Linked DNA regions of Homo sapiens: region 2 is linked to region 1. A link means that fine-mapping ties the variant in region 1 to the expression of a gene that starts in the linked region. Tissue or cell type: coronary artery. Region 1 holds a variant in brackets; the other region holds the start of a gene. All regions are shown on one strand. Distances are from middle to middle.

The links. PIP is the estimated chance that this variant, and not a neighbour inherited with it, causes the effect.
Region 2: it holds the start of ADGRB3-DT, and the variant in region 1 is fine-mapped to the expression of ADGRB3-DT in coronary artery (GTEx, PIP 0.96).

Annotation. Positions count from the first base shown.
Region 1 is chr6:67,820,925-67,831,642 of GRCh38, forward strand. No RefSeq gene overlaps it. Among named protein-coding and RNA genes, the nearest start is that of LINC02549, 500 kb to the right of the region's middle. RefSeq lists enhancers at 780-1,979, 5,052-5,346. The variant A/G (reference allele first, on the strand shown) is at 6,359.
Region 2 is chr6:68,629,924-68,638,503 of GRCh38, forward strand. ADGRB3-DT (ADGRB3 divergent transcript) reads right to left here and starts at 4,401. Exons shown (of 2, transcript NR_125872.1): 1 at 4,262-4,401; 2 at 2,740-3,133. ADGRB3 (adhesion G protein-coupled receptor B3) reads left to right here and starts at 5,359. Exons shown (of 32, transcript NM_001704.3): 1 at 5,359-6,077; 2 at 7,468-7,639. It overlaps LOC127898563, which reads left to right and starts at 5,967. Exons shown (of 1, transcript NM_001414704.1): 1 at 5,967-6,044. The coding sequence starts at 5,967. The coding sequence ends at 6,044. RefSeq lists a silencer at 5,098-5,307.

The sequences.
Region 1 (10,718 bases):
AAGTTTAACAATTGCCTGAACATCACCTGACGGTCACCTGACATACCTGGGGGGGACCTCTCCTGCTCTGCTCATGTCTGGCTAGGTACCTACTCTAACATTTGAATATGATATGCCATAATGTAGTTTGTTTTTTTTTTCTGGTCCTTATACTCTCTGGTGTTCTTTGATTTTCTGGGATCAGTATTTTTGCACCTGTAATTAGTTAGGGATTACTTTTGCATTGTTCTCAGCCATTATTACTTCAAGTATGTATTCTGTTCTTTCTCCTTTATTCCTATTATGCACATGTTACACTTTTTGTGATTGCCTCACTATTCTTGACTATTCTGCGTTTTTGTCTTTTTCCTTTCTTTAGCCTCTTTGCAATATTCAGTTTGGGACATTCTTATTGACCTATATTCAAGCTGATTCATCCTTTCCTAAACCATGTCCAGTCCACTGATGAATCTACCATAAGGACTCTTCATTCCTGTTATGGTGTTTTTGATTTATGGCACTGCCTTATGATTCTTAGTTTCTCTCTCTCTGCTTGCATTACCCATCTGTTCTTGCATGTTGCCTACTTTTTCCTTTAGAACCCTTCACATATAAATCATTATTTTAAACTCCCCACCTAATATTTTCAATGTCTTTGTCATATCTGAGTATAATTCTGATACTTGTTTTTCTTCTTTAGACTGTGTTTTCTCTTGCCTTTTAGAATGCCTTCTAACTTTTTGTTGCAAGCCAAGCATGTGTTGGGTAATAGGGCCTGAAGTAAGTAAACCTTTTGTGTGAAGATTTATGATGATGTTGAGACGTGAAGCTGGCTGGGCTTCTGGGTCGGGTGGGGACTTGGAGAACTTTTCTGTCTAGCTAAAGGATTGTAGATGCACCAATCAGCACTCTGTGTCTAGCTAAAGGTTTGTAAACGCACCAATCAGCACTCTGCGTCTAGCTAATCAGGTGGGGCTTGGAGAACTTTTGTGTCTAGCTAAAGGATTGTAAATGCACCAATCAGCACTCTGTGTCTAGCTAAGGGATTGTAAATGCACCAATAAGCATTCTGTAAAATGGACCAATCAGCACTCTGTAAAATGGACCAATCAGCACTCTGTAAAATGGACCAATCAGCAGGATGTGGGTGGGGCCAGATAAGCAAATAAAAGCAGGCCACCCAAGCCAGCAGTGGCATCCTGCTCAGGTCCCCTTGCATCCTGTGGAAGCTTTGTTCTTTCCCTGTTTGCAATAAATCTTGTTGCTGCTTACTCTGTGTATGCAGTACCTTTATGAGCTGTAACACTCACCACGAAGGTCTGCAGCTTCATTCCTGAAGCCAGCGAGACCACGAACTCACCAGCAAGAAGGAACAACTCCGGACGTGCCACCCTTAAGAGCTGTAACACTCACTGCGAAGGTCTGCGGCTTCACTCCTGAAGTCAGCAAGACCACGAACCCACCAGAAGGAAGAAACTCAGGACACATCTGAACATCAGAAGGAACAAACTCTGGACACACTATATTTAAGAACTGTAACACTCACGGGGAGGGTGTGCGGCTTCATTCTTGAAGTCAGCAAGACCAAGAACCCACCAATTCTGGACACAATGTGAGTAGGGGTTTGTCTGTGTTTATTGTTTACTATACTTGTAAGCATCAGTGAATTCAAATTCCTCTTACGTACTTATTTTGCCTCCCCACTTGACTTTAGAATCCCATAAATACTTCTCACAAAATCTGCATGTTTCCAATCTTCCAGCAGTAATGCACTGTTACTTTAGTGGAGCCCTGTTTTATTAGTGGTAAATTGGGAGGGAAGAAATATATTTTTCCACCATATTATTACTTCTCAATCTTTAGTGAGCCTATGTCTTTGGAACTTCAAAATCTGGTGTTCTCTGATGGTACAGCTTTCCCCTCCTCTCTTAGATAAAACAGAAGGCTAGGAGGGGATGAAGCTGAGAAGAGGCTCTGGTGAGGTCTCTCTCCATGAAAAATGGCCTTTCTTTTGGAAAATGTTCTGCAAGTTTTTTGGAATGATTATCCTTCCCCTTCTACTGCCAGAGACAAAGAGGGATCATTTTTGGATCTTTATAAGGTGAATCTGGTAGAGGTTTTGGATGTTAAGTCTGCAAAAGTATTGGGCTATACCAAGACTGTTGCCTTCGGTAGTTTTGCGCTCATGCTAGGCTACTTGAAACTTCCAGCAATTCATCCAATTATGACTTACGTGTTTCTTCCGCATTATGCTTCTGCTGCTTTGCTCCAAATAAACAGATCTCTACCGGAACTGTGTAAGAATTTCCGTATCTTTTCAGATTCTGGGTGCCAGTTTGCCCTGCAAGCTCGCTTCTCTAATAGATCCAAAAAAGTCAATGATTTTCAGGGTTCAAGTTTTTTTGTTGTTTATTTATTTTAAGGTCAAAAATGTTGTCTTCCATGCTCATTACATGTCACAGTTAAAATGGAAATTAATTTGTTATACAATTGATAGAAACAAAAGCAATTACTCTGCTCAAAGCTAAGAAGTATTTTACGGATTCATTCCTACTGACTAATTTACAGATTTTTTTGGTATATAGTGTGTTCAAAATGTCAGGCTGCACATTACAGATATAAAAGTGCAAAAATCTCCATCCCATATTTTACAAAAATTTTATTGTGTATTTGATAAAGTAAAATTTATTGACAAATAACTAAATGGGATATGCTATTTGTGATATGTATGTGTGTGCATACTTTATATGTATATAAAATACTTGTTTGCATATATATATGAGTGTGTGTATAAAACCCCCACTCTCCCTGGAATTTGATAAGAAATATCACAGAGCACAGAGATACTTTGAAATGTTAATTTCCTACTCTGGATGTACAATCTGACATTGAGAGAAAAACAAATGAATATCACTGGAAATATTAATAATTATCTTCCTTTGTTCTTTTGAAACTTGATTAGTTTAAGTAATGGGGAAGCTAATTAGAAAATGAATAAAAATATAAAGAATGATCAAATAAGCAGTGTGAAAGTTAAATTGATTGTTTTTACATTAATTGAAATAACCTACATTATTGAAGAATTACACATGCATCAATCCCCTGCTTCTGTGCTGTGTTTTGCAAAACCATGTAAATTATATACTTTGTCCTTTTTTTTTACACACTGTCAAATCTAGGTAAAATTTACACTCAATATTTGTAAAGTGTTAATTGATACCTTGCAACAGTGTGAATGACCTCCTATTGTTTCTTGCACTTTACCAAATCGAATAATAATCCTGAGCCTCTTAAATGAAAGAAAGTTCTTCAAAGATTTATAAGCTCATGACCTGCTATTGTTCTTTTCAAGCTACTGTGACCTTCTTGGCTCATCATTCATTTAATAAAATGAATTCTCTTTTATGTAGTGCAAAGTCTCTGTTTAGAAAATCAGTGACCTTTTCTCTCGTAATAAAAGTGTTTTTACAAGTCTAGCCCTCTTTAAAATCGTTTGAGTTTATTTTTTGCATCTTTTCTAAACTGTAGAAGAATGAGCATCATCAACGACTAGTGCTCTCCCTGGCTTGAAGTTGTGCCAAGTTGTATAAAAGCTCAAGATATAGTTGCATTTAGTTTTGTGGGTTGCATTAAATAAAATGTCATTCACCATTCATAAATGCATACTTCATATTGCAGGAGGTTTTACATTGAGTCTCTCAAAGACTATTGATAATTTCTAAATATGTTATACAAACTTGTGATATAAATAATCTATAGTATTACTTCTGAGTGTGTATGACTCCTTATTTTGTTTATAACATCTGATAACAATATTCCTAATGTTTTATAATGATTTTATCTTCTAGGCCAGAATTTTTACCAATATTATGTGTGTTTTAGATAGGAAAAGTGATGGTAATCTACAGTGTTCTTTACATCCCCACTGGCAATATTTATTTCAGGTCCTAGTTGCATAAAACGAAAGCTATCTTGAAATGTACTCCTTTCAATTGTAGACATTATGGTTTGCAATCCCCTTGCCCATTTTGACTGATATGTATTATAGGCCTGCCTTGAAAATTACATGCTGGGTAGCCATCTTCCAAAATGTTTATGAATATGTAGAAATATAATAAATTTAGTGCATTAAGCTTTCACATAATACCTAAGGATTTACTTAATAATTATTAATAAATTTAGTCACATGTAAAGAAAGAAATAACATCAAGGACATTCTAAAAGGCATTAAAATTTACTCTTGGAATGCATTATATCATTTTGTTCTTAGTAAAGTTAACTTTCCAACCTTTTTATTTCAGATTCCCCAAGTAAACCTGAGAGGTGACAGCGTGCCTGCAGCCCTCGCAGCCCTCTCTCGCTCTCGGCGCCTCCTCGGCCTCGGCACCCAATCTGGCAGTGCTTGAGGGGCCTTTCAGCCTGCGGCTGCACTGTGGGAGCCCCTCTCTGTGCTGGCCGAGGCCGGAGCTGGCTCCCTCAGCTTGTGGGGAGGTGTGGAGGGAGAGGCGCGGGCAGGAACTGGGGCTGTGTGCGGTGCTCGCGTGCCAGTGCGAGTTCCGGGTGGATGTGGGCTCGGCGGGCCGTACTCAGAGCTGCTGGCCAGTGCTGCTAGCCCCGGGCAGTGAGGGGCTTAGCACCCGGGCCAACAGCTGTGGAGGGTGCGCCAAGTCTCCCAGCAGTGCCAGCCCGCAGGTGCTGCACTGGAATTCTTGGTGGGCCTCAGCTGCCTCCCCACGGGGCAGGGCTTGGGACCTGCAGCCCACCGTGGCTCCCCCACAAGGTGGGCTCCTGCACGGTGGCCCGAGCTTCACCGACAAGCGCCGCCCCCTGCTCTGCAGCACCTGGTCCCATCGACTGCCGAAGGGCCGAGTGCGGGTGCACAGCAAGGGACTGGCGGGTAGCTTCACCTGTGGCCCTGGTGCAGGATCCACTAGGTGAAGCCAGCTGGGCTCCTGAGTCTGGTGGGGACTTGGAGAACTTTTATGTCTAGCTAGAGGATTGTAAATACACCAATCAGTGCTCTGTGTCTAGCTCAGAGTTTGTGAATGCACCAGTCAGCACTCTGTATCTAGCTAATCTGGTGGGGACTTGGAGAACATTTATGTCTAGCTAAGGGATTGTAAATGCATCAATCAGCACTCTGTGTCTAGCTCAAGGTTTGTAAATGTACCAATCAGCATTCTGTATCTAGCTAATCTGGTGGGGACTTCAAGAACCTTTATGTCTAGCTAAGGATTGTAAATGCACCAATCAGCACTCTGTGTCTAGCTCAAGGTTTGTGAACACACCAATCAGTGCCCTGTGTCTAGCTCAAGGTTTGTGAATGCACCAATCAGTGCTCTGTGTCTAGCTAATCTAGTGGGGACTTGGAGAACTTTTGTGTCTAGCTCAGGGATTGTAAAAACACCAATCAGCCCCCTGTCAAAATGGGCCAGTCAGCTCTCTGTAAAACAGACCAATCAGCTCAGCAGGATGTTGGTGGGGCCAGATAAGGGAATAAAAGCAGGCTGCCCCAGCCAGCAGTGGCAACCCACTGGGGTCGCCTTTCCACACTGTGGAAGCTTTGCTCTTTCACTCTTTGCAATAAATCTTGCTGCTGCTCACTCTTTGGGTCTGCACTGCTTTTATGAGCTGTAACACTCACCGCGAAGGTCTGCAGCTTCTCTCCTGAGGCCAGTGAGATCACGAACCCACCAGAAGGAGGAAAGTCCAAACACATCTGAGTATCAGAACGAACAACTCCAGACGTGCTGCCTTAAGAGCTGTAACACTCACCGCGAGGATCCACGGCTTCATTCTTGAAGTCAGTGAGACCAAGAACCCACCAATTCCAGACACAAACCTACACTTGTGCAGTAATGAGTATGTCCAAGTTATACTTATTTCTCAATGGAGACTTAACTGGAATTAAAACTTTGCCTAGGCAACATATTAAACAAAAAATATGCATGTGGAAAACTGTGCAGTAATCATAAATTTGTCTTCTCAAAAAATGCTTTGTTAGCAATAGCAGTAACACCATTCCTGTTCCATGCAGCAACTTCTCAAAACACATTGATACTATCATTGGCCCCATTTTATAGAGGACAAAATGAGGTTCAGGGAGCTTTCTATGACCTCAATTGTCTCAAATGGGGTATGTACAGAACAAGATTTTAAACTAACTTACTCTCACTTGAGAAGCTGAAAGTCATACTCCCTATCTAATTGGTAATAAATGCAGTATGTAAAATATTCTGCTAAAAAAACATTTTTATTATTTCTCATAACTTTTGGAACTTAAAACCAATGGGAAATTTTTTCCAGTTGTAGAACAAGAAAACCAAAGTTCAGAAAGGTTAAATAAATGTTCCAAATACTCCCCACTGGTGAACAGAAT[A/G]TTAAGAATTTGAATCTGGATTTTACTCCATAGTCTGTGTTCTTAACCCCTGTAGTGACTGTCTTTATAAAAGTTGTCCTGTACTCCTCAAAAACAGCTCTGTATTAAAGTCATTTTAGCCTTTCAAATAGAATAGTATCTGCTTAACAGCAGCTCAGTGGCCCAATTACATCTTTTCATTTTTCAGCTATATGTTGAAGTGAACAGTGTTTAAAAATATGTATTTAATTACATATTTTTATAAATTTTTGTTTAGTATTTTCATTTTATTCTCATTAATATAATTAAAGGCTGTGATAATACATGTATTAGTAGTACTAATAGTATATGAATTATTATTTCTGTAATTTTAGTAGAGTTATTCTATCAGGATTTTAATTTGATAATTGTCAAATAATATACAGTAGAAAAAAATACATGAATAAGTTTGAACAAATTTATACATTCAAAATGCTGTTGTAAGCATTAATATCCTTGTGAACGCTAAACTGTCATTTTTTTGTCCTCTACTACCATTTCTGGAATAAATGTTAGTAGTTGAAATAATAAGTGGAGTTTATAGATTTAAATATGATGGAGTGGCACAAGCTAAGAACAGGCTTGTCATATTAGAGTGCAATATTTTGGAATGTTATTGATTATAGTTTTCAGAGAAAGAACACTTTATGCATCATTTATTATTACTAGCAACAATTTTTATTACCTGTATATCAAATAAATGGAAAGCTTCATCTAACTGAGAAGTAGTTGACATGAGTATCTACCACAATCAGAATAGATTCTATCACAACTTACAGTAAAGAGAGCCTACGATGTGAGAATTAGGGAGAGTATTAAAGCAAAGAATGTGCTGGCAATAGTATTGCAAGATGGAATTTATATTCCATATTTACTCCATGAAGCTATTGATTATTTGATAGATATTCTTTCTAACGCAGTGCTGGAATCCAACTTGTCTTCTTTCCATTGCTTTTAAACTAGGTTTATCTCAGGAGACAAGATATTTTCTAGGAAAATCAATGAAAGTAAAACTGAATACTGAAACTTTTACCACCATATTGGCTTCCCTTGTGCTTGGCCACTGATATACTTCCTCAGATTACAGTATTAAGAATGCAAGCTTTAAAGGCTGAGTAGTTTCCTGTAATACTCCAACAAGGTAGAAAGTAGAAAACGTTCCAAATCATATTTGGAGTGTTACAGGAGGGTAGAATTGCAGTTCTTTTTACCTCAACACCCACATGCTCGAAGAAAATCTGTTAGAGTTGTGTCAGCCTTTATGAAAGTGTGATTCTCACCAGCTTTTTTATGTGGATATTAAAACTATAGAATCCTAGGCCAAACCATATATCTACAGAATCAAAAAACTTGCTTTCAGACCTCAGAATGTGTATTTTAACCAGGACTTTAGAGAATGCCCATGTTAATTTAGGTTTGACAACTAGGGCCACAATGGCTTATAAATGAGACAAATATGGATTAGAGTGAAAGTTCTGTCAAATGACCTTTCTAAAGCCTTAGTCTCCATTATAACATCAAGAAAATAATGATTTTTATTCCATATTATTCTTCTAAAGATATAATGAAATAATATGTAAGAAGCATATGTAGTCCCGAGTAGGGCATGTATATAATCAATAAAGTTAGATAGTGTTATTATTATTAGTTATGTCTGTGAGAAAACTACAAAAAATGTTATTCATTCTTGATCTAGATGAAAGGTTGGGACTGTGTTTATGACTTGGGGTTGTGTCACAGGTATCACAAGGGCCTTCATCATAGACATTTCTTAATAAATAATTGCACTGGTCGTTTTTTGACTCACTTTTCCTCTTCCTTCACATTTTGCCAATTAAACCTCCAAAAAAAATCCAATCTATTCATGTCTATCCATTACTACTGCCCTAATATCCCAGTCCAAACCAACTCACCTCTTACTTAAAATGAAGCAATAGCCTCCTAAAAAAAAAACACTTGTAATCTTTAAAACAACAAAAAAAAAAACTGATTGAGATAGTCCCCTGCCTCCATAAAACTAATTTTTAAAACTGGCATTATTTCTTTTTAAAGCCCTTTAACAATGCATTTTAAAAAATAAAAATAAACTAAAAGTTCTTGCAAGTTCTGTTCCTTGCCTACTCTTTTAGCCCCACCTTAAAAAATGTGCCTCCTTCATTTCTGTTTCCCAGACACTATATTTCTTTTTTGAAATAGTCTCAGGTATCTCTTCTCGCAGGAATGTGTACATATCACTTTTTGGTTATGGTTTTAACCTATAACTCCCTCAGGCTTCCTGACTGCTTCTGACTAAATTAGCAGTCTTTTACCCAAGTCATTCGCTTAAGGAATTCTGTCTTAATTCCAGTCCAAATTAAATTATCCCTCCATTTTTCTCTACTTGGAATCTAGATGTTGCTGTTTTTTCCTCCTAACCCATAACTCTTTTAAAATGAAAATATTTATTTTGTATATTTTTGCTAGTTTGTTTAATGCCTGTATCCACCATGACACTGTAATCTCCATGAAGACATACGGTGTCTTTGTTTTATTTTTTACTATAGTCCCCAGGGCAAGCATACCCATGAAAACATTGGCATGCATTACATGATTCTTGTCTGAATAAATGATTGGACAGTTCAGATACTTAAGTACATGTTCTATGTTCAACAACTTGGTACTTTTATTCAAGGTTGTGTATGTGTGTGTGTATATGTATACATATACACACACACATATATATAACACATAAACATTATAACACACATATATAACACACACATATATATCATATATATATAAAACATATATATATATATATATGTTATTGGGAAGAAGATGTAGCACAGTATCATTCCTATTATATTAATAAAAGCAAGAAAACCTGCAGAATGTTCAGATCCTCAGCTTTTAGGCTCTCCTTTGGGCAACACTCTTTTAGATGTTGACAGCATAAAATTGGTTCAGCACTCAAGTCTTCATTCTGCAGATTATTTCTGTGGATAAATCAGCAGGCCTGAATAATTCTTTCCTTTAGCAAGTGCTGTGGGACAAGTAATCCAATTACTCCAGAGACTTTTGTGACATTAAGTGAAGCAATTCAAGAAATCACTAACAATATCCACTTTTAAGATCTAAAAGTATCTTACATTTAAACCTTGAATGTTTTGCTTCTTACTTTCCTTCTCTCTTTTTTTTTTCTTTCATTTCTTGGAATTTAAGTACAGATGTTTTTAAAATAGGGTAAAATTATTAGTGCTTCTATGTGATTGTGTCCATGAAGCTGTGATAAAATGCAGAAGCTCTATAATTTCTATGAAGTAAAAGTTAGCTTTGGATGTCTGTCTTCTAAGATAGCTAAGCAGAGTACATGCCAGATATTTTGCACACATTATTTCATTCAACCATTAAATATTCCCAAAATAGAATATTATTATTCTCTTACTCTAATATATTATTATTCACATCTTGCAGATGACAAAACTAAGACAAGTGTTAATTGGCATGTACAACAAACTCAGCATATTTAATTCACTCCTACATTTTTCTATTTAACTCAGGAAAAATTCCTAAATTATGTAAGTAAATAAAACAAAAGTTTTGTCTCATTAAATAGAATACTAAAAACATAAATAATAAGTCATTATATGTACAATAAGAAGTATTAAAGCTTATAAAAATAAATATAAATAAGTGGATGGTTGAAGGAGGTGGAGGAAATGAGCTATTTCACATACTGCATTCAAAAACAGCATCTCTAAATATTTTGTATTCAAACAGAGATTTCAATGTAAAAAAGAGAGTGAACTATCAAATTATTCAGGTTACTAACTTCCCAGGAAGAGGAATAGCAAGGGTGAAGGCACTAGGCAAGAATAAGTGTGGCAATTTAGAACAGCAAGGTGGTCTGTAATTGAACACAGTTAATAAAGCACAGAATGGTAGCAGCTGAGGATGGAGAAATATTTCCTTAAAATTGGGGTCCAAAGAGGCCATAGAAATGACGTTAAATATTCTTCTAAGCTTTAGAAATGTCACTGGAGGGAGGACTTTGAGGCACAAAGAGGCATATTTTAAAAAATACTTACTATTTTGAGGTATAATTGACATAAAATTGACTTCACTAAAGTGTACAATTCAAGGATTTTTAGCATATGCAGAATTGTGCAACCATGACTAGTATCTAATTTTGTAATAGTCTCATCATCTATAAGATAAATCCAGTATCTATTCCTCACCATCTCCCTTCTTCCATGCCCTGGTAACAATTTAATAAATTGCATCGAACAATCTTCTGGTGCAACTGACATGTTTGTGTAATTAATTATTTAATGCCTACCTCCCCCATTGGGCTATAAGAGTA
Region 2 (8,580 bases), 810 kb after region 1:
AAGGAAATACACATATGCAAAAATAAAACATAAAAAAAAAAGACCATAGGGAAATGTGGATGAACTAGTAGGGAAACACACAGACACACACACACAGAAATAGAATGGAGAAGCTAGTATGTCAGGATAAGACATCTGCATGGGAGCTGAAGTCATGAGAAGAGGAATGGAAGTCAGGTAGACAGGAAAACTGCCAGCCAGCAGCTAAAAGATTCCATGAATGGAAACTATAACCTGGAGGAAGAGGTAAAGCTGCAAAGGCAGATGCCTTGGTCTCTACAGAAAGGTGAGCATGAAACTGAAATAAGGAGTACATATTTGAAACCAAAGGGGAGACTAAGGATACTGATTCTGCCACTGACCCATTTAATCAGGGTATGGAAGCAGCAGACATATAAATTGCATCTGTTTGACACGGTTGGAAGAGATGCCATGTCTTCATAAAAGAGCAGGCTTCAGTCAAGGAAGTGGGTAGAGAATATTCTTCCTCTTGTTTGTTGGTATAAAAAAGCATGGAGATCCAGAAGGCAAAATGAGAGAATCTGCCAGGAAGAGAAATGGTAGAGATAAGTGGATCAGAATTGGTAGAAACAGGACTGAACATGAATAAATGTTCAGAAATAATAGGTAGTCCATAGACTTCAATACCTGGTGTTGATAAAGCTCAGCAGATGTGCTGTTCCTGGCAGCCTTAGTTATTGTCATCATTAATGATAAAGTGGGACTTCTGTCAAAGAAAAAAATTATCAGAGTGGGAGAGGAATAAAAATGGAAAGGACTGTCTGTACCTCAGAAGATGATAGCAAGGGAGAAAGGCAAAGCTAGTAAAACTATGGAGGTTTTCAAAATTGTGATAGAATAGAGAGGCATTTCCAACCTGTGAGTGGGAAAATTGTGATTCTTTCTAGTCTAGGATTTAATTGCATTTTTCTCTCACTGCTTCCATTTCTTGTGAGACACCTTCTGTTATTTAGACTATGTCAGGAAGAGCCTTAGACATTATTCAATCAAGCTCTTTTCTGTGAGATAACTGAAGTCCAGAGAATTCATAGCTTCTTGTCCTTAATGAGGTATATACTTAGTGTCAGTTTCGTGAGTAAAAATGAAGAATCTTGATTTCTAGTATAATTGAAATTTCAGGGATTAAAGATAATGGTGTAAGTATAGTAACTTTATATGAGAAAATAACTAGCTGAAAAAGGTCAAATTTGGGGGTGAATGTATGTTCGATTGCAAACCCATATTTTGAGGTTTTAAAGTCCATATTTTCCAAGATACTTCTACAGCACACAAATATGACATTATGTGTTACCTACTTACAGCATTTCCTTAATATCACCAATGAAATCTTGAAAATTGATGGCCAAAAGTATTTACCGACTTTTTTTTAACTTGTATCGTTGTATAGGGAAATAATGATAAAAAATGGAAACCTGATGCAACTGGGATTTTTGTAACCTTGACTTTGCCTAGCATGGAATAGGACTACACTTGAACTAACCCAGGATAGCTGTTCTATGACATCTCCCTTAACCCCAAGTCTATCCCTTTATTTTTTAGTACTTCAATGTACTTTCTATTCTGGGATGTCCAAGTAGAAAATGACCAATTTGTTTTTTTACATAGAGACTAGAGGATATACAGCTTGGTTTCTGAGAGACTTCCTTTTTTAATAATAATAAAATAATGATAATAAACAGGAGACAGAGGAGAAGAAGTTGTTTAACTTTATAGTAAATATGCTAATATTAAGGATAAGTTCTCATAACAATGTAATCTTGTAATATTTTGATCATTTAATTAACATTCCAAAGCTTTGTGTATGTGTGTGTATATATATGTGTGTGTATATATGTATGTGTGTACATATATATGTGTATATATATATGTGTGCATATATATATATGGGAGATACTAAATACTAAATACTAAAAACTAAATACTAATACTAAATACTAAAAAATTAAGGCATATTTAACAAGAAATAACCTACAAACCTATCCATGCTTCTTAAAGCCTTACTGAAAATAACAAGTCACAGAGTTTAGAATGTGGTAATACAGTAATATCAGAAAAACTATGACAGAAAGAAGGAAAGAGAAAATACTTTCTAAAATTGAGTAAACATATTCTAGAAACATTCTTATTTGAGTATGAGAATTCTGCAAATGATACTGAATTTTAAGCAATGATCCTGGATTATAGGGTTATTCTCAAAGTGGAGGGACTAAACTTAGCACATACAGACAAAAAGATGAAACAGAAATAAATCACACTTATAACCTCATCATTCCAAAGTAATCTTAATAAAATAATAGCAGGAGAGATAAATTTGAAAGGCTTTAATATTAGATACCTGGGTCAATTTAAAATGCCATACCAGACTATATTTTGATGTGCTAACACTGACCTCTCAATAGTTCTTCTGTAAATCATCAAGGAAACTTATGTAATAATCAATTTATACAATTAATGTGGTAGTTTTGGAATTAAATGCATTACCTTATAAAAGAGAAATACAAAGCAATGTAGTGAAACTTCCCAAGCAAATATATGTGTATCAACTGAAATACACATATACATATCATATACATATATATACACACACGTGTATGTGTACTTACAAATAATGCGTGCATACATATACATATGTATGTATAAAATATGTGTATATGTGTTTATATATGTAAACATAAATATAGACATAGACTTGTGAAAGAGACCAATGAAAGCAGATAATTATAATTTGAAATGGTGATTTTAATATGTATTCAGTCATAAAAGTGGACCAACATCAATAGAAAGGAAAGGACAGAGAGCTGAGGGTGTGTAAACTGCTGCTCTCTTTTTGCTGTTGGGTCAACATGTCAGCAATGCTTTCATATGGAGCAGCTTGCAGACATGAAACAAGGTGGTTCCTCCTTTCTTTGCCTTTGGATTGTGCTGTTGTTAGTGTCCAGAGACCAGACTGTCCATATAGGGTTCTTTTTGTGATTCTTTATTATAATCCCCTGAGGAAGTCAGACGAGCCTGGGGTTACTGGAGACAGTGTCTTGCTTGGCGTAGTTATCATCCACAAATCATCTGCTATAAATATATCTCAGAAGGATCATCATCAGGCCAGCTCAGTAGCCTGCAATTTATGAAGGTTATGAGAAACAATGTGAAGGGTGAAGCGCTTTATTAAGGGTGGCTTTCTTTTCTGACCCTGCCCTGACTTCTACTTGAATATAAATGATCCTGGGAGTAAGTGAACCTTTCCATTTAGGATTTAGGCTTTTAAATTGTCCCTTTCAGCTGTTATTCTTATGCCACTGTGTCATGACTTTAAGAATTTCTAAGAAACATCAAAATCAGTGTTACAAGATAATATGAGAAATCACTAGATGCAAAATAGAGGTATAACTGAACCTCACATTACATTCTTTCCTTTTTATGTATAAACCATCCAAAGCATTTTTTCCTCCGTTTTTATTCCACATCTGTCATGCTTTTTTTTCCTCTGGATAAAGTAACAGAACTGACCAAATTGCCTTGCGAAAATCATAATTACGATCTCTAGGGAAGTTGAAATAAATAAAATGTTTTTCTCCTTTGTGTTGCTCAATGTTCTTTGTTTTTAAAAGAAAATGTGTTGCTTAAACGGTGTTTCAAAATTTGTTCTGGACATAAACCCTAATTATTTCCTTTTAACATTTCCTTAAATGAATAAAAAATATTGTAAAGAACCAAAATGACACAAAACCAAAATGCCACCCAGGCTGCTCTCTTGCCGGTGATTTGTTACTGGGAAAATAGTTAAAGCCTGCTGGGGAATTATTAACTGTTTCCCCTTACAGTGTTTATCCCAGGCATTCGTTTAAGACGGGAAAGCCTTGAAGAGGGTCACTCTATTAATATGCATTAAGAAGTAAAGGACCAATTTTAATATTTCAAACAACTCCAGTGGATAACAGACCATAAACTTCCTGTTTTCACTATCAATCTCTTTTAAAATGGTGTTCTTGGCTATCCATAATCGCCCCAGGGGAGAGAAACAAGCGGAGGAAAAAAATGCAAGAGTGAGGGGAACAAATGATGGAAAATTGCTTTATTCAACTTCACCTGCCGCTCGAGAAACTCACCCTTACGAAGATTCCAGCACTTTATATGAATTACCCATTATGGTTTCCTCCCACCACATCACTGCACTATTTTAGCACTTGTTTTGCAAACCACCAACTGCGTTTACAAGTAGAAACATAATCAGGAGGCGAATGACCTTTTGTAGCATGTATCTGAAGCTGGTTTATCAGACACTTCGTCAGCCAACTGTCCAGGAGGCAAAATGACTATCTATGATGATAGATAGACAGACAGATAGATAGTTAGATTAAAAGGTGGGGAAACATCCCTTTTCCCTTTTTCCTTTCTATATAATCTGGTTTTTTCTCTTCACCCCTTTTCTCGCTTCTTCCCACCCCGTCCCCAAACCTGTTACTAGGGAAACTTGAAAAAGAATCAGATACATTAAGACTACAAAACGAAACAAAAGTTTAGACCCCGAAACCATGATTCCATTGCCAAGCACAAAGCAATGCAAGAGCCCAACGTCGGTCGCCGCACCGCGATCCTGACAAAGCCTGTATGGAGCCAGAACAAATAAGATGTTAATTGCAGCCTCGCAGAGAAAAAAATACTATTGTTCCAGCCAGAGACACTCAGCAGCTCGGTAGCTGGGATGTGCCCCCTCCGCTGCGGACTGGATCAATTCTGAATCCCGGTACTGAAATGACAGCTCTCTGGCTGCGACAGGTCTGCGCTGAAAGAAAGAGAAAGACGATCAAGTCCAGCATTCACTTCCCACCCTTCAGAGTCGCCTTCCCATCCTCCGCACCCCCCTGCCTCGCCTCCCAGTGAGTTTCTCTTACAGTTGGTCGCCGCCAGCCCCAGCGGTGGGAACTGAGGATGCAAAAACCTCCCAGACGCAGAAAATACCGCTTTCGGGACGTGCTTGGGTTTGAGTAGCCGTGACGTGCAGGCGAACCGCGGCCCTGGCTGGAGCTCCGTGGAGCCCCCCTCCCGCCAGCCTCTCCCCCGCCCTCCCGCCGGGACTCCCTCCTCTCCCACCCCGCGGCTCCCTTCGCCTTCTCTCTCACACACCCGCCCGCGCCCCCGGCAGGCAGAACTCCAGGAAGTCGCAGCGGCCGCGCCGCGCGAGCCGAGCCTCTGGCGGGCGGCGGGGCGCACCGCAGCTGTGCATAAGAAGGGCGCGCGGCACCCGGGACGCGCGCGCACACGAGCACGCGGGAGGCCGCCGCGCGGACGCGCTCCCGGGACACGCGCACCCCCCGCGCGCGCGCCCAAGGGAGAGCGAGCACTGCGCGCCGGCGCGCACACCCGAGACAGAGCTTTACTATCTCGCTCCCTCTCGCGCCTCCCTCCTCGCTGGGCATTCAAACAGCTTTCCGACATCACCAGCCAAGGATTTTTTTCCCCGCTCTCCTTAGTCGCCGTCCGTCCATCAGTACCTGCAGGGGGGAGGAGGAGGAGGGAGGAAAGCGGAAAGAGGAAAAAGCATAAGCTTGAGCCTTCCGATCCGACCACGAATACTCCTGTAATAAACCCACCGCCCCAACAAATCTGCCATAGCAGCCGCCGCCGCCGCCGGTCACTTCTCGTCTCAGCGCTTTCTTTGCTTCTTGGTTTGTTGGGGGTAGCTTTTATGAAACAAATCTTTGCTATTAAGCCACTTACATTTTGGGGGGTTCCTTAGAGTCTCCCTTGGGGGGGCTTCTCCCTCCCTTTAGCCCCCCTCGGTTTGGAGGTTGGATTCAGTTGGATACGGCGCAAGGTTCTGGGCTCCTGCTGGCTTTTTTTTCCTCTCTCTCATCGACCCCCCTTTGGTTCCCACCCCCCACCTTTTGCTTTTCGTATGTATGCATTTTTAAAAATAAATCCTGATTTTGGAAGCTGAGCCGGGGAAAATGGGCAACGGTGATTGGGACCGAAGGGGAGTCTCTCCGTCACTGTTGCTGGGACGCGTGCCTGTGCTGGTGTCTTAGAGCAAGAGCCTCCCTGAGCTTTCGGAGTGGAAGGTAAGGAAGGGGGTCCAGGGGTCACCTTTTCTCTGCCGGGGGTCGCCACCGTGGAGCTTTGGGCTTAATGTTTGAGAAGGGAGGAAAATGAAAGGAAAGGCTGTTGCTGGCGGATGGGGAGGCTGTGAGCAGATCCGACTGTCTGCATTTACTTAAACGCCGCAGTTGAAAAGTTAGAGAAGTCTGGTTTTCAAGAGATGTGCTGGGTCAGAAGGAATAAGCGGAGAGACCTAGAAAATCTGGCAGTTTTGTGTGATTGGGGTAATTTTATGAGGGGAAAATTTTAGGTTAAAAGGAAGTTAAGAGAAGGCAGTGGGTCTTCTATTGGGGGGAAAAATCTGTGGAGTGATGGCGCCGTCTATGTTCGACTAAACTAAAGTGTCACCCAGAAAATCAGTTTTGAGAATAGCTAAACTCAATGCTGGTTTGCTTCTCAGCAAGAGATAAATAAATAAATAAATAAATAAATAAATAAATAAAACATCCTTGACACCTCCGTGGCCAGCCTTTGCCCCCGCCCCCACCCCTTCTTTAAGAGGGAAACACGGCTTTTTGAACGGGCCCTGCAGTCCAAAGGGGGGTGAGGGTAATGATTTATTTTTTATTATTTAGAACAAAATAAGACTGTGTACTCCAGACTGATTAAAAATAAAGAGCATTATATTGAGTGCGCTCTCTTGAGCAGGCATTAAAGTGAATTCAGAGCTATTTCCTCACTCTCTGATCATTGATGAGCACGGCATTGCAGACATGCACTGTCAAATAAATGAAAGCAAAAGTACCAATTTCATTAGGAAAAGACATACGACCTCTTTTTGAGTTCCTGATTATAAAATGAAGTCCCCTTTCATGGATGGAATTCCTAATTTAGACACTTATTGTCACATTGGCTCTCAACGCCTACACTCTATCCTGAAGAACACTGCGCAGACCTGCATTGCCTGCAAAGTGCAACACCAAAAAAAAAAAAAAAAAAAGGAAATTATTTCCAGAATTTCTTACAACTTTCTCTGTTTTTTTTTAACCTTTAAATGCTCATTGGCTTTATTTTCTCATGAAGAAAATGCATTATTCATTGAGCTATTTGCTTGAAACAGAGAACACTGTTTTGATGGTCCCAGCAGTTCTGATGTTATTTTAAACTGCTGCTATATAGAGATTTAGAGTTGGGGCTGTGTTTGCCTATATCAAGACATAGAATTTGAATTATAATCTGGAAAATGCAGATCTATCTTCAGGGACTTCGGTCACTGGATTTGGTGTGCATGCGTTGGTGTGTGTTATGCAATGGGAAGGAAGAGGGTTTTATCCTTTGATTCAGAGAAGACCCAGGCAAAGGCATGAAAACTCTTAACTATCTATATGTCTGTATGTCTGTCTCTGTTTACAGAACAGTGGAAGAGACTGCAGCCTAAAGACTTTTAAAATTAACTTGGCATCACTTTTATCAGCTCAAAGGCTAAACAAACAAACAAAAGCAGTGTCATTTATTCTAAGAAATAACTTCTTAAAGGTTAAAGCTGAAAAATATTCAAGTTATTTTTGGATAACAACTTACAGAGGTAAATATAACCAAGGACTACTTTATTATCCAAAGCCAGGGTTAAAATTAAAAAAGAAAAGAAAAGAAAAGAGGAGCTTTGGAGTTGTTGTTGGAAAGGGAGCAATTTAATAATTGAAATCTGCTAGGAACAAAAATGTTAATGTATTTTATTACCATGTGTAAGCCTTAAATTACAGTTGATAAGATAATTTTTCAAAAATTAAAAGACTGAAACCAGCTCAATTACTATGGTTCTGGATTTTTTTTTTTTTTAACTGATATCACCTTTGGATACAGATACTAATACAGTGATCCACTTTATGTATCCCAAAAGGGCATGTCACATTGAAATGACTGCCCTAAATCCTGGTTCTCAATGGTGATGTTGAACAACAAGTCTTCCCTATGTATTTATCCATCTATGCCCTTTCTCAAATGATGGTTTTAAAATTAACTAATCCACATGAATGCCCATGTTTTTGCAAAGGAATTTCTGAGCAGTTCACATGGTGGCCCCTGCAAAGGCAAGTGGGGCATTTGGGAGATGATGTTCCATCTGTAATAAATTATTATTTGTGCTTTTAAAATTGTGGCCATAATTTATCATCATTACTTTTCACGTTTAAGAGGAGAGAAATAATGTGATGACAGCTGTTCCCAGATTATCAGATTAGATTTTGTATGATAGTGTTTACCGCAGAGGACAGAGAGAGAAAAGGTTGTATAGACTATAGACTGATTAATACTATTTCGACAATTAACATTTACATTATGACGTTTTAAAACTCCATGTTTTCCCTTTTCATTCGATAGAATGATAATGGACGTGGAGGATATCCTAGTAGATAAGTTAGGGCATTCCTATTAATAATCTATTAAATGTTATTTTTAAATTGAATGTTGCGAATTTGACCATTGTGAATGGCCACATGAGGGCGCTGTTCACACAGCAACAGATAA